Regions from separate parts of the Homo sapiens genome. Here region 1 is linked to region 2. Evidence: fine-mapped expression QTL. A gene starts in region 2. The other region holds a variant in brackets. All regions are shown on one strand. Distances are between the middles of the regions.

Evidence for each region. PIP is the estimated chance that this variant, and not a neighbour inherited with it, causes the effect. A credible set is the group of variants that fine-mapping cannot tell apart.
Region 1: its variant is the best candidate, but not a certain one, in a credible set for the expression of DDX59 in whole blood (INTERVAL, PIP 0.70).

The regions. Positions count from the first base shown.
Region 1 is chr1:200,641,348-200,645,876 of GRCh38, reverse strand. It overlaps DDX59 (DEAD-box helicase 59), which reads left to right. Exons shown (of 8, transcript NM_001031725.6): 8 at 1,360-1,840. The coding sequence ends at 1,623. Among named protein-coding and RNA genes, the nearest start is that of KIF14, 23 kb to the right of the region's middle. The variant GTT/T (reference allele first, on the strand shown) is at 2,732.
Region 2 is chr1:200,668,344-200,672,588 of GRCh38, reverse strand. DDX59 (DEAD-box helicase 59) reads left to right here and starts at 2,682. Exons shown (of 8, transcript NM_001031725.6): 1 at 2,682-2,822. It overlaps DDX59-AS1 (DDX59 antisense RNA 1), which reads right to left and starts at 3,082. Exons shown (of 3, transcript NR_110787.1): 1 at 2,967-3,082. RefSeq lists a silencer at 2,529-3,268.

The DNA of each region.
Region 1 (4,529 bases), 27 kb after region 2:
CTTGCCTCTCTTCTCCTCTGTCTCATTCCCTAGAGGCTTCCCTTCTTAACTTTTTTAGAAGTTTCTTTTACAGTGTTAAAAATGCCCTCTGTATTAGCAGAAACTGTCTACTCATTTAAATATTTCTGAATATAGACTTTAAGTTTTACATTTCAGTTAAGGAGCAGAAATTGACCATGATTGTGTATTTTCCCCCTCTTTTGAAGAGTTTCTTAGTATATTTTCATTATCTATTTGGAGACAAGTAGGTTTTGTGCCTTATTGATACTCCATAAATTTGTGTCCATTTAATTCTCTCAACATGAGAAATAACTAGCCGGGCCTGTAATCCTAGCACTTTGGGAGGCTGAGGCAGGTAGATCACAAGGTCAGGAGTTTAAGACCAGCCTGGTCAAGATGGTGAAACCCCATCTCTACTAAAAATACAAAAAATTATCCAGATATGGTGGCGGGTGCCTGTAATCCCAGCTACTTGGGAAGCTGAGGCAGAGAATTGCTTGAACCCAGGAGGCGGAGGTTGCAGTGAGCCGACATTGCACCATTGCGCTCCAGCCTGGGCAACAGAGTGAGACTCCGCCTCAAAAAAAAAAGACAAATAACTTTATGCAAAGATGATTTAGTATAAATCTCACATTTCAAGGCCTCTTAAGTAGCCTTGGAAGTAAATAGTCCTCTTGCTCTTAATGCAGGGGCTTTCAGAATTTTTTGACCTTAACCCACCCACAATAAGAAACATCTTTATGTCATTACCCCCAACACCACCCATACAGGTATAACTAAAACACAAGTTTCACAAATGATACTTACTTTTATTTTATGTGATCACTCTCTTATTTTCTGTTTGGTCTGTTCCATTAAAAATATGCTGGTGGAGGCCTACTAAATTGATTTCACAGATATATTGAGATGCATAATTCAAAAAATGCTGTCTGGATGAAGGTTAATCTTAGTAAAGCTCCTTTTTTTTTTTTTTTTTTTTTTGAGATGGAGTCTTTTTCTGCCACCCAGGCTGGAGTGCAGTGGCACGATCTCAGCTCATTGCAAGCTCCGCCTCCTGGGTTCAAGCGATTCTTTTGCCTCAGCCTCCCAAGTAGCTAGAATTTACAGGTGTTTGCCACCATGCCTGGCTAATTTTTGTGTTTTTAGTAGAGACAGGATTTTGCCACGTTGGCCAGGCTGGTCTCAAACTCCTGACCTCAGGTGATCCACCTGCCTCAGCTCCCAAAGTGCTGGGGTTACAGGCGTGAGCCACTGCACCCAGCCAGTAATGCTACTTTAAGTAATATTATTCATTTTCTTTCAAAAGACACTAAGATTTTACATGGACATCTTGAAAATGTTCTTTGCATTTTATTTCAGATTGGAAGAGTAGGAAGATTAGGTCAAAATGGAACAGCGATTACTTTCATCAATAATAATTCAAAAAGACTCTTCTGGGATATTGCAAAACGAGTAAAGCCCACAGGATCCATTCTTCCCCCTCAGTTATTAAATTCCCCATACCTTCATGACCAGAAGAGAAAGGAACAACAGAAAGATAAACAGACACAGAATGATCTGGTTACAGGAGCTAATCTTATGGATATTATCAGAAAACATGATAAAAGTAATTCTCAGAAATGATTTTCTCTGCCACTTGAATATTTTTTTTTATTGTATATAGTCAGCAAAAAATTATGGTTTGCATAAATGGAAATGTACATGAATTTTAAAAATTTTAAGATATTTTTAATTTAATAAAATTTATATAACTATATTGTATTTATTTCCCTTAATTCTTATAAATTAAAAACATCAGAAAATGAATTATTAAATAAAAGACAGTGTTTTCTTTTCTGGATGAAGTTTCTTTTTTCTTTTTAAAATAAACAGTCCTCAGAGCTACTGTCAGAACCAGAAACCTCCACAAAGACTCTGACTCGGATCAGTGATTGTTTTACTTGGTTCCCCCACAGTTCCACAAGCACATTGGCACTTAAATTACTGTTGAATAAATGAGAATTAGGAAAAATGTAAATGATAGAAACTGGAAGAAATTTTCAGAACCACTTTTGAAAGATAAATATGAAATGTCTACTTTCATTCTCAGTTGTTTTACCTTCTGCTTGGTTAATGCTGTTTTAAAAATAAGATAGGCTACTTATCAAAATAATGTCATTGTGTTATTGAATGAATGTTGCCCTGCTAATTCAATTAATAGGTTTTTTGTTTGTTTTTGTTTTTGTTTTTGTTTTGAGACAGAGTCTCGCTCTGTCGCCCAGGCTGGAGTGCAGTGGCACGATCTCGGCTCACTGCAAGCTCTGCCTCCTGGGTTCATGCCATTCCCTTTCCTCAGCCTCCCAAGTAGCTGGAACTACAGGCGCCTGCCACCACGCCCGGCTAATTTTTTGTATTTTTAGTAGAGATGGGGTTTCACTGTGTTAGCCAGGATGGTCTCAATCTCCTGACTTTGTGATCCGCCTGCCTCGGCCTCCTAAAGTGCTGGGATTACAGGCATGAGCCACCACGCCTGGCCTACTTGTTTATAAATAAAAGTGGCATGGCCAGAAAAACAGCATTTACAGGATATGTAGTTTTGTTTTGTTTTTTTGAGATAGCATCTCACCCTGTCACCCTATACTGGAGTGCAGTGGCATGATCATGGCTCACTACAGCCTTAACCTCCCAGGCTCCAACAATCCTCCCACCTCAGCCTCCCAAGTAGCTGGGACCACAGGCGTTGTCTCACTAT[GTT/T]GCTCAGGCTGGTCTCAAACTCCTGGCCTCAAATGATCCTCCTGCCTCTGCCTGCCAAAGTTCTGGAAAGGAAACTATTATTTTAACAAAAATAATATTATTTGAGAGACTGTAGTAATGCAAAAAAATATTAGCTATAGTATAACCCCACTGGTTTACTTAATTTGCTGGCAGTCTGGCTTCTTCCCACCACTGTACATACATGATCTTCCCGTGGTCTCTGTTGACCTTCTTAAACCACATGTTCTGCCAGCTCTCACTTTAAACTTTTTTATTGCGTCGGTCATTGTGGGCCACCCTTCTTGAAACCCACACTTTCTTAAGGCCAGGTGATGAGTTAGAGGTGGAGGAAAGAGCCCCTAACTCACAGGCTTATTATGAGAGTTAAGCGCAGTTGCATATGTCAAATACCCAATAGGGGAGAAGCCGGCTATCAGCGCCCTTCCCTTTACTTCCCTCTCGCCACACAATTTTCAGACTCCTGTTACTGGTTCTTCCTGCCTCTCTGAATCTTGACTTCTGCTTCTCATTCCTTAAGATCTTTCCTTTGGCAACTTCCTTGTCTCACATGTCTGCTCTTCTGTTGTCTGGGGTGCAGCAATGCAGTGGTTTCCTCAATTATGTATTTTAGAGACCAGAACATTAGACTTTTAAAAAAATTTGGTCCCAGTGTTGCCAGTATTTTTTTCCCAATTAAAGATCTTCTTTTTAAAAAGCTACCACCTATCATTAGTTCATGAAAGAAAAAACATGTAGTACTAAACAAGAGAGAAGGACTTACTCTCTGAATAAGAGACCATCCTTCCCCAGAAAGGACACTAATGTACTATATTATAAAATTTTAAATAATAGATTTTTGTGAGAATTACCATACAGTTTAAATTTTTAATTAGCTAAAAAAACTAATAATCACATACACTCTCAGACATTTGTTTTACAGTAACTATATTATAAAAATACTGAATTGGTTGCTTTATTGCCAGATTGAAGCAAACATCTTTTATATGGCAAACACCTTAAGGGGTGGCTTTTAGATTCTAGAATATTCAGTGCCACTTTATAAGATACTTTTAATGCCATTCTATTAGTATTTCTAATACCAAGCACATTTTTATTTTATTTATTTTTTTATTATTATTTTGAGATGGAGTCTCACTCTGCTGTCCAGGCTGGAGTGCAGCAGCGTTATCTTGGCTCACTGCAACCTCCACCTCCCAGGTTCAAGTGATTCTCCTGCCTCAGCCTCCTGAGTAGCTGGGACTACAGCTGTACACCACCACGCCCAGCTAATTTTTGTATTTTTAGTAGAGACTGGGTTTCACCATGTTGGCCAGGATGGTCTCCATCTCTTGACCTAGTGATCCACCCACCTCGACCTCCCAAAGTGCTGGGATTACAGGCCTGAGCCACCACACACAGCCTAATTTTTGTATTTTTAGTAGAAATGAGGTTTCACCATGTTGGCCAGGCTGGTCTCAAACTCTGGACCTCAGGTGATCCGCCCACCTTGGCCTCCCATGGTGCTGGGATTACAGGCGTGAGCCACCACACCCAGCCTAATTTTTGTATTTTTAGTAGAGACAAGGTTTCACCATGTTGGTCAGGCTGGTCTCAAACTCCAGGCCTCAGGTGATCTGCCCATCTTGGCCTCCCAAAGTGCTGGGAGCCACCACGCCCAGGCCCAAGCACGTTTTTTAAATCACCTTTTTATTCAACAAGTCAAAGTGGGTTCTTTTTTTTTTTTTTAGTTTTTTTGGTTTCATAACATCTTTACAAAGATCATTGCCACATATTTA
Region 2 (4,245 bases):
TAGCTACTCGTACTTCATCAATGTTAAACTACCTAAATTTGAGCCAGGCCCAGTGGCTCATACCTGTAATCCCAGCACTTTCGGAGGCCAAGGCAGGTGGATAGCTTGAGCCTAGCAGTTGGAGACCCCCGTGGGCAACATGGCAAAACCCCATCTCTAACAACAAAAAAATTCTCTCTAACAGGTGGGGTGTGCCTGTAGTCCTAGCTACTCTTACTTCATCAATGTTAAACTACCTAAATTTGAGCCAGGCCCAGTGGCTCATACCTGTAATCCCAGCACTTTCGGAGGCCAAGGCAAGTGGATAGCTTGAGCCTAGCAGTTGGAGACCACCGTGGGCAACATGGCAAAACCCCATCTCTAACAACAAAAAAATTCTCTCTAACAGGTGGGGTGTGCCTGTAGTCCTAGCTACTCGGGATGCTGAGGTGGGAGCCTCACTTGAGCCCGGGAGGTGGTTGCAATGAGCCGAGATCGCACCACTGCACTCCAGCCTGGGTAACAGAGTGAGACCTTGTCTCAAAAAACAAACAACCTCAACTGGAACATTTTTCTGTGAGTATAAAAGAGAATATCATTGTCTTTGGAGACACATGCTACAACTTACTCCTAAATGGTTCAGAAAAAAATATATATCTATAGTATACATATTTTATATATATAATCTCTCCTACACACTAATATAGCAAATATAGCAAACTGTGAACTTATGTGAAGGGTATACAGGAGTTCATTAATTCTGAAACTTTTTGATAAGGTTGATTTTTTCAAAATAAGTCAAAAAATTTTTTTATTTGAAAACACACTATAAACAGGGAGAAGATATCTGCAACACCTACAATTAACAAAAGAATGTTTCATTATATATACATATATACATTATATATACATTTATATATGTACACACACACACATCCTTAGAAGAGGAAGAGAAAACATGAATGAATAACATATTTCAAAGTGCTCAGCCTTATCAGTAATTACGGAATGCAAATTAAGACAAAAACATGGTATTTATTCTGGGTAGACTAGCAAAAAGTAAGAAGTGTGAAAATAACGAGGATTTAGAGAGAATTGTGGTCGGTACTGGTGGCAGTATAGATTGGTACAACCACTTTGAAAACATTTCTGCTTTATCTTTGAAAGCTGAACAGCCCCCATAGCCTCTGATGCCGCAGTGCTAATCCTAGGTTCAAATTAGAGTCCAGCGCATGCACAGAAGGTGAACAAGAATGCTCCTACTAGCCTTATTAGTAATTACTAGGGGCAGATTCAGGTTTTATGGGGTATGAGCTTATATAATTGGAAAAGAGGAGGCTTTTAAAGAAAAAGATTCAGAATGATGAATACAAATTAGGTTCAAAAGTGACTAATTTTTATAATGGCAAAAGAAATTACAACAATTAGAAATGTCACAAAACCCAGGAAAAGAGTTCTGTTATAGGTATGTGACCTACGAACTTGGGAAGTCTGATACATTTAGTCTGTGTGGTTCCCATCAATAAAGAAAATACTTAAAGTGCATTTATAATCCTATCCGCTACAGTATTGAATACATTCCTGACAGGAGAAAACTTCCTTTTGACTAGGCAGTAAGAAATAAATGTTCTGTTACTACACGTAACAACTTGGATGAACCAAAAAAACAAATGTTGAGTGATAAAAAGCGAATTCCAGGCTATATGTATTTTTATAAAGCTCAAAAAGAAGAAAAATACACCAATACACAGGAATGCATCCAAATATGATAAAACCACTAAAAATGGCAAAGAGGGACAAAACTGAAGATAGTGGTGGTGAGCTAAGAGGCCAGGAGTAGAATCCTGGAGATGCATAGATACATGCTAAATACTGATAACGTGGTGGAGTGATAGTTTCATTAGCATACTTTAAATTTTACATATTTGGTAAATATGCTCTTTTGAATGCATCGACTATTACACTGAAAATATTTTTAAATACTTAAGGCACCTGAATATAAGCTGGCTTCCCTCCTTCCTCTCCCGTGCTGTCTCCTCTCCCCCATCACTTCTCAACTACAAGCTGCTTGGGACACGTGGCTCCAGAGGTTGGCAAAACAGGGAAATGTCAGCCCACAAGGAACAAGAACCGTGACTTGTGTTATTTTCTTGTTGGTGTTGGGGTGGGGGGAGGGGTGCGGTGGTGCAGGAAATATTATCCAGCTTATCATATATGCCACATCAAGCTGACTCCGTTTAAATTTTGAGTGGCTCTACTAGCTAAAGCCAGAAAAGGGTTTTTGGGCCCAACGGGCAGAAGTGCCCCTCCCTTTTACACTCACACTTCCCACTTTCTAAGGGTGCCAGGCCCCCGCGCCGCCCTCCTGCTTCTTTCCGGACGGTCCAACTCTTTTCCACCAGTCCCAGCCCATTCGATTACGTAAATTCTTCCAAGAGGATTCCCAAACGTGCCCCTCCGTCCAGAACTCGCCCAGCCCGGACCAGTTCCGAGATTTACCACCAGCCCAGAGCTGGGCGGGGGCGTGGAAAACGCGAGGAGCCTTCCCGCCCCTCTCCTTCTCCCTCCCTCCCTCCCAAGCCACTGCCGGCTCCCAGCCGAGCTCCGCCCCCGCGGTGGCCCCGCCTCCCCGCCGCCCGGAAAGCGGGCTGCGGCCCCCTCCCAAAACCCGGGGAAGTGGATTCTACTCTACGCTCCGCTCCGCTCCGCTCCGCACCACCAACCCCGGGCCGCAGTCCTGACGAGCGGGTCAGGGCTTGTCGGGCGGAAGCCTGGCCTGGAGCCTGGAAGGGGGAGACGGCCCGAGCGGGAGCGGGAGCGGACGCGGCCTCAGTCCTGCGCGGGTGAGCGTGCCCCGGAAGCTTGGGCCCCTGGCCGCCCTGGTGCCCCTTCTCCGGGACCTGGGGCGCTAGGCCGCGGCGGCAGAACTGGTGCCCCTGCGCGGCCTTCCTCCCATCCTTACAGTTCCCCGTGTCCCAGGCCTCTACCCGGAACCGGAGCCCCGCCCGTCTCCTAGCAGCTCCGTGACGTGAAGCGCCTCGGGGTGCGGTGCCGCCGGGCGTGGGTGGGAGGCAACGCCCGAGGGGAGGGCCCGCCAGTGCACGGGGGTGCGGGGCGCGTTGGCGAGAATTGGAGGCCGCGCCGCCGCCAGCCGTCCGCCGTCCCGCCCAGCAGGAGCACGTTCCCTTTCGCCATTGGAAGACTGAGTTCCAAGCTTTTTCCTGCTCACCTAGAGCCGTCCCTGCCCCGCCCGCCACCCCCTGTACATTTTCGGAGATTTAGGATAGTAATTCTAGACCCTCGGTTGCATTTCTGTTGGAATTTTTCTGGAAGTTGGAATCTGGCAGTTTAAACAAAGAATTTTTTTAAGAAAAATATTTATTAGTATATTTGATAGTCCCCAGATTAGGTTAAAAGCCTTATTCCCAATAACTGTAATTTTGCAAAGACATGTTTTTGGTGTAAAAAGGTATAGATATGGGTTGATGAAAAGAATCAAACTCTGAAAAATATTTGAAGAGATTTATTTTGAGCCAGATTCAAGTGACCATGGCCAGTGACAGTCCTCAGGAGGTCCTGAGAACATGTGCCCAAGGAAATTGGGGTACAGCTTGGTTTTATCTATTTTAGGAAGGCGTGAGACATCAAATACATTTAAGAAATACATTGGTTTAGTTTAGAAAGGCGGGGCAACTCAATCGGTAAATGTAAACGTTATCTGGTTGAGGTTATCTAAAGACCTGGGATCCATAAAAAGGAATGTTCAGGCTAGAGATAAAGGATTGTGGAGACCAAGTTTTATTGTGCAGAGGAAGCTCTTAGATAGACTTTAGAGAGAGCAGGTTGTAAATTGTTTTATATTGGACTTAAAAGGGTGCCTGGCTCTTAGTTGATTATCTCCTGGATCTGGGAAGGAAGGAGGGAAAACAAGGGGAGATGGGAATTCTCACCAAATGCAGATTTTTCCTGCAAGAGACTTTGCAGGGGAGTTTTAAGGTACGACAAGGAAATATATTTTGGGGTAAAACATTTTTATTTTCTTCCTTGTTAGGCCAGAGTCAGATTGGAAAGTAAGTCACGATATACAGGGTTAAATAAAACCCATCTGATGAGAATTTATGGTTTGTAGGGCATGACTCTCCAGACCCCTTAGAAAGGAATTTGGGTAAGATAAAAAATTAGAGCTTAGTCCTCGTATGGTTGAGAGCTTGTGCTCTGGATCCACAGTGCCAGGGTTGTAACACTTAAGAATTGTGTGAGCTTGGA